Linked DNA regions of Homo sapiens: region 1 is linked to region 2. Evidence: fine-mapped expression QTL. A gene starts in region 2. The other region holds a variant in brackets. All regions are shown on one strand. Distances are between the middles of the regions. Region 1 overlaps KRT28 (keratin 28). Region 2 holds the start of KRT10 (keratin 10).

Region 1 (2,929 bases), 31 kb after region 2:
AGAATAAACTATATTTCTTTTACAGTTCATGCTCCAAATCAAAGGGCTTTGGATCAGGAAGCCCTGGGAATTCATCTAAAGGTAATAAAATCTAGTTCTATTTCTTTTCTTTTCTTTTCTTTTTTTAAATTTTTTTGAGACAGAGTCTCGCTCTGTTGCCCAGGCTGGAATGCAATGGTGCTATCTCGGCTCACTGCAACCTCCACCTCCTGGGTTCAAGTGATTCTCCTGCCCCAGCCTCTTGAGTAGCTGGGATTACAGGCACCCACCACCATGCCCAGCTAGTTTTTATATTTTTAATAGAGACGGAGTTTCACCATGTTGGCCAGGCTGGTCTCAAACTCCTGACCTCAGGTGATCTGCCCACCTCGGCCTCCCAAAGTGCTAGGATCACAAGCATGAGCCCTCTAGTTCTATTTCTATCACAGCAATACTTTTACATTAATGGCAGTCATACACTACAACCGTAGTCAATATTTAAGTAGTTTTAGCTAAACTGTTCTGAATAGGAAGTATCAAGTGGCTAAAACTATCCCAAGCTATTATTATAAATATATACTTACTCCCTCAATCAAAAATATGCATAATATATTATATTGAACTAGCAGTGGAATTGTCATGTAATCTTTTTGGTTGAATATATGTATGCCTATGTTTTATTTCTAGATTTATCCAAAACCACACTGGTAAAGACAGTGGTTGAAGAGCTAGATCAACGTGGTAAAGTTCTTTCATCAAGGATTCACTCCATTGAAGAAAAGACATCTAAAATGACCAACGGCAAGACAGAACAAAGGGTTCCTTTCTAGCTGTCATTTTAGAGAAAAGAATAATTTGGGAAAGGATCCTGTACAATTGCATTATTCTAAATATCAGAGAGAATATACACACTTTTTACTTTTAAAGATACATTACTTAGCAAAAATACCTGTTTTCTTAGTTTTACAGGATATTGAGTGTTTGTTTCCAATAAATAAAAAAGTTGATGTGCATTCATTTCCATTCACTGATGACTAATAAATAACTATTTGTGATTTTTTTCTATGTCTCATTCATAGAGAAACACTTGTGGAATATATTTTAATTGCCTTTCACTGTTGTTTTAAATAATAGTCAATACCGCCACATGGCATTTGAATATGAAACATTCACTATGCATAATCTTTAAATCACATCGTGTCTATGTGGGCAAATAATCAAAAACTTCAGAAATTCTCCTGTGACTGAAAAGTCTCACCACTAGATGACGCATTCCTGGTATTTTACCAAGAGCCTCTCTCAAACTCTTCTTTCCACAATACCCAGGATACCATTCCTCGTCTAAACAGGATAATCTCCGGAAAAATCCACAGCAATATGGCTTGTGTTAGTGACACTTTTCCTAGAACAGGGGTCAGAAGCTTTTTTTGTGAAGACCCAGATAGTAAATATTTTAGGCATGGCAGGCCGTAAAGTCTCTATTTCAACTACAAACCTCAGCCGTAGACAATAGATGAATGAATGAACATGACTGTGTTCCAATAAAACTTAATTTATTAATGCTGAAATTTGAATTGTAAATATTTTTACCTGTCGTGGAATATTCTTCTTCTTTTAACTTTTTTTGACCA[T/C]TTAAAAATGTAAAACCATTCCTAGCTCACAGTCTGTACAAAAACACATAGCAGGCCAAATTTAACCCACCAACACCTGTTCTCGAATGTGAAGCCCCATGAGGCTGATGAACATCATGATTCTTGTGATTATGACTATTTATACCTTTCTGGATCAAAATGTATGGTAGGAATTCCCAACAAATATTAAATTGCCTAAAAGGAAAGCAGCTCCTTTATTTCTCTGGTATATGGCCTGATTCCAGTGAAAATCTCCAGCAAGAGAAGGAATTCTGTCTCACAATCCTCCAGTCACATGGGATTCAGAGAAGTGGCAAAGAATGAGATATTTACAAAATCTTCAGCCAAAAGCCATCAAATGAAGCAAATACTAGAAATCCACAGAGAAATGATTTCCAAATGTACAATATTCAGGGCCAGCTACATAATTTTCAGGACCTAGCGCCAAATGAAAACATAGGATTCCTTGTTCAACAATCAGGAAAAATGTATCACCCAAAGGCACTAAAATATCAAGCTGTTTCCTTGCATCTGCATTTATGTTTTCAATTTGTCCTGGATTTTGTTGTTTTGATTTGGGGTTTTCTGTTGTTGTTGTTGTTGTTGCTGTTTTGTTTCCTTTCTTTTTTTTTCTTTTCTTTTTTTTTTTTTTTTTTTTTGCTATTTAGTTTTGTTCTAAGTAAAGTGTATTAGTCCATTCTCACACTGCTATAAAGAAACTACCTGAGACTGGGTAATTTATAAAGAAGAGGTTTAATTGACTCATAGTTCCATATGGCTGGGGAGGCCTCAGTAAACTTGTAGTCATGGCAGAAGGTGAAGGGAAGCAAAGACCTTCTTCACATAGTGGCGGGAAAGGGAGAGTGTGTGAGGGCACAGAAAAAACTACCATTTATAAAACCATCAGATCTCGTGAGAATTCACACTATCTCAGAGAACACCAGGGGGAAACCACCCCCATAATCCAATCACTTCCCTGTCTCAACACATGGGGATTACAATTCAAGGTGAGATTTGGGTGGAGGTACAGAGCCAAACCATATCATAATGAAAAATTAAAGTTCTAAATTATTGGCATACATGTTACTATGAGTTTTTATATTGTGCCATGCCAGTTTGAAATCCAAGCAAAAGAACATTTAACTTGTATACAGAATCCCCAAAATCACACAATTCATAATTTGTAGCTCATACATGCATATGTATTTTGTTCCTACCAAAACAGTGGAAACACTGCACAAAACAAACTCAATTGTTTTTATTTCACTTCTGTATATACCCACCTTCTACCAGCATTCTCTACCTTTGGTTTACCAATG
Region 2 (2,929 bases):
TATCTCAACAGCTTGTTCTAGAAATTTTTAAAGCACAGTATCACAAACAGCACTACATAATTGTAAAACATGTATGAATATATACATCCAAACAACAGCAATGTCATAGCCTATGGGTAGATATAATCTTATACAATGTACCAAAATCCCAATTTACTTCACTAGACAAACTGTTATACCAAATTCTGTACACAGTATATCCAAGAAAATGTGTTGTTTTTATTGAGAAACTGAACCTAGCTTGGGAACACATGTGCACAGTCTAGTTCATAATATTTGGTGCAAGTATCATTCTCTAATATAGATTTACATTTTTGCAAGCAAATTTTTACTTGCAATCATAACATATCCAAATTTTCCCTTTTTACTCAATCAGAACTTAGTGTAAAGTACTACAAGTTAGTTCTTCGGATTTCATGCTAAGAAAATAATGCAGATTTTCTGCATTATTATGGTCTTCACAGAAACCTTAACTATGATGAATTTAAAAGTGCAAAATAATCCAGGATAACTTTATGATTTCAGATTTTTTAATGTTAAAAATAATGCCATCATTAATTAGAAAATTCTAAAATCATTACTTCCACTTTCTTAGGCAAAATATCAATATACTCTCATTTGCCAAATAAATTAAAAGATCTCCTACAAACACAATCTCCTAAATTGTGGTTTTATGGCTTTAATGTTTTATGTGTGGCAACTATTGATGCTAGTTAAATTTTTAGAAACTTTTTCTTTTTGATTCCCTACAGTTGTCTACAAGAACCTTATTGTAGCATGATCCTGCCAGACTTTATGCTATTTGTTGCTCCAATTAAAACTGTTTAAAACATGAATTTGAAAAATCTTATTTTAACTATAATTTTGTAGCTGAAACTTTTTTTTCTAAACTTTGCAAACATTCTATGCAACCTGAATTAGTGCTGAGAAAAATGGATCTTAACGGTTGCTCAATGTTCTTCAACAGGTGAAAAGCATAATAAAACATGCTCATCTGAACTCCACCCATTTTCAATTTCAACATAGCAAACCTCCTGTTTATTCTTAGGGCAAATTCAAAATTGTACATATTAGGATTGGTTATTACTGAAGATAATTTATGCAATCATAAGCCAAAGATGCTAAGTTGGCAAAAAGAAAACAATGTAAGTAAGCAAACTCTAACACATGTGGACACACCCTCTCAGTATATAAAGGCTTGTCACTGTCCTTGGTAGCAGGCACTCCCTGGGCTAAACAGCATCACCATGTCTGTTCGATACAGCTCAAGCAAGCACTACTCTTCCTCCCGCAGTGGAGGAGGAGGAGGAGGAGGAGGATGTGGAGGAGGAGGAGGAGTGTCATCCCTAAGAATTTCTAGCAGCAAAGGCTCCCTTGGTGGAGGATTTAGCTCAGGGGGGTTCAGTGGTGGCTCTTTTAGCCGTGGGAGCTCTGGTGGGGGCTGCTTTGGGGGCTCATCAGGTGGCTATGGAGGATTAGGAGGTTTTGGTGGAGGTAGCTTTCGTGGAAGCTATGGAAGTAGCAGCTTTGGTGGGAGTTATGGAGGCATCTTTGGAGGGGGCAGTTTCGGAGGTGGCAGCTTTGGTGGGGGCAGCTTTGGTGGAGGCGGCTTTGGTGGAGGCGGCTTTGGAGGAGGCTTTGGTGGTGGATTTGGAGGAGATGGTGGCCTTCTCTCTGGAAATGAAAAAGTAACCATGCAGAATCTGAATGACCGCCTGGCTTCCTACTTGGACAAAGTTCGGGCTCTGGAAGAATCAAACTATGAGCTGGAAGGCAAAATCAAGGAGTGGTATGAAAAGCATGGCAACTCACATCAGGGGGAGCCTCGTGACTACAGCAAATACTACAAAACCATCGATGACCTTAAAAATCAGGTAAGAGGTATTTTTAAATCCAGCTTTAAGTATCTTGTCCATGTAATCCAGACAGATGAATCTTAAATTAAGCACAATGTGGCTGTTCACTATGCTTACCCATGTTACTTTCTTCCTTCAAAAATAACCCAGTCTCATCAAAGATAAACATCTGTGAAACTATGGTCATGGCAATCTTCATCCAGCAAGTGTGCTACTTGTCTTAAGAGGATGGGAGATTTACTAAGCACTTTTGAGGTTTTAATGAGCATACAATGAGTCCACAGTTAAAATATGCTAGGCTATTTACAAATGTAGAAACTGAAAAAAAAAATCATGATATGAATCAGAACAAAATGTTATTCAGACTGATAACAAGCCATATTCAGTACCAACATGGCAAGAAAAATAAATTTTCCAGTATGAAAATGGGACACTGCTTGCCTCTAAGGAATTTCTGAATTGTACCTATTGTGTACCAGTTCAGAGTGTATTTATTTATTAGTATTTATCATGAGTTAAACAAATGCAGGTGTGAGTCAGCCAAAGCATGGCTGAAATACATGGAAATCACATAGTCTAAAAGAGGAGGGCACACTTACAGGAATACATCTATATAATTCCAGTTAGTTTTCAGAAAGGAATAATTCGTGTACAGAAATACAAGACTGGAGAAATTCCAAGAGAACAAATAATTCAAAGTTAAGTATATGGGTAAGCCTGCAATATTTCATATTTAAAATAAAAAATTTTCCCAAGATTTTGTAAGAGAACAACATAAAAGTGCAGAGTGCATCTATGTCACTACAAAAGCCATATCTGCATCTGACCTCTTCTCAAATAACTGTGCCTCTCCCTCCAGATTCTCAACCTAACAACTGATAATGCCAACATCCTGCTTCAGATCGACAATGCCAGGCTGGCAGCTGATGACTTCAGGCTGAAGTAAGTTAAGTGATCGTTGTATAATACTATCACAACGAATACATCAGTGGTTTTTAACAATGACTTGGGATGCCCTCAATAACATTTACATTTTTCTGAATTCACCCAAAGTTAAATAGTATTGGAGTTAT

Evidence for each region. PIP is the estimated chance that this variant, and not a neighbour inherited with it, causes the effect.
Region 1: its variant is the best candidate, but not a certain one, in a credible set for the expression of KRT10 in whole blood (TOPMed, PIP 0.53).

The regions. Positions count from the first base shown.
Region 1 is chr17:40,790,307-40,793,235 of GRCh38, reverse strand. KRT28 (keratin 28) reads left to right here. Exons shown (of 8, transcript NM_181535.3): 7 at 26-81; 8 at 667-1,040. The coding sequence ends at 809. Among named protein-coding and RNA genes, the nearest start is that of KRT28, 8.2 kb to the left of the region's middle. The variant T/C (reference allele first, on the strand shown) is at 1,611.
Region 2 is chr17:40,820,904-40,823,832 of GRCh38, reverse strand. KRT10 (keratin 10) reads left to right here and starts at 1,219. Exons shown (of 8, transcript NM_000421.5): 1 at 1,219-1,874; 2 at 2,716-2,798. The coding sequence starts at 1,248. All of the region lies in intron 1 of KRT10-AS1 (KRT10 antisense RNA 1), which reads right to left.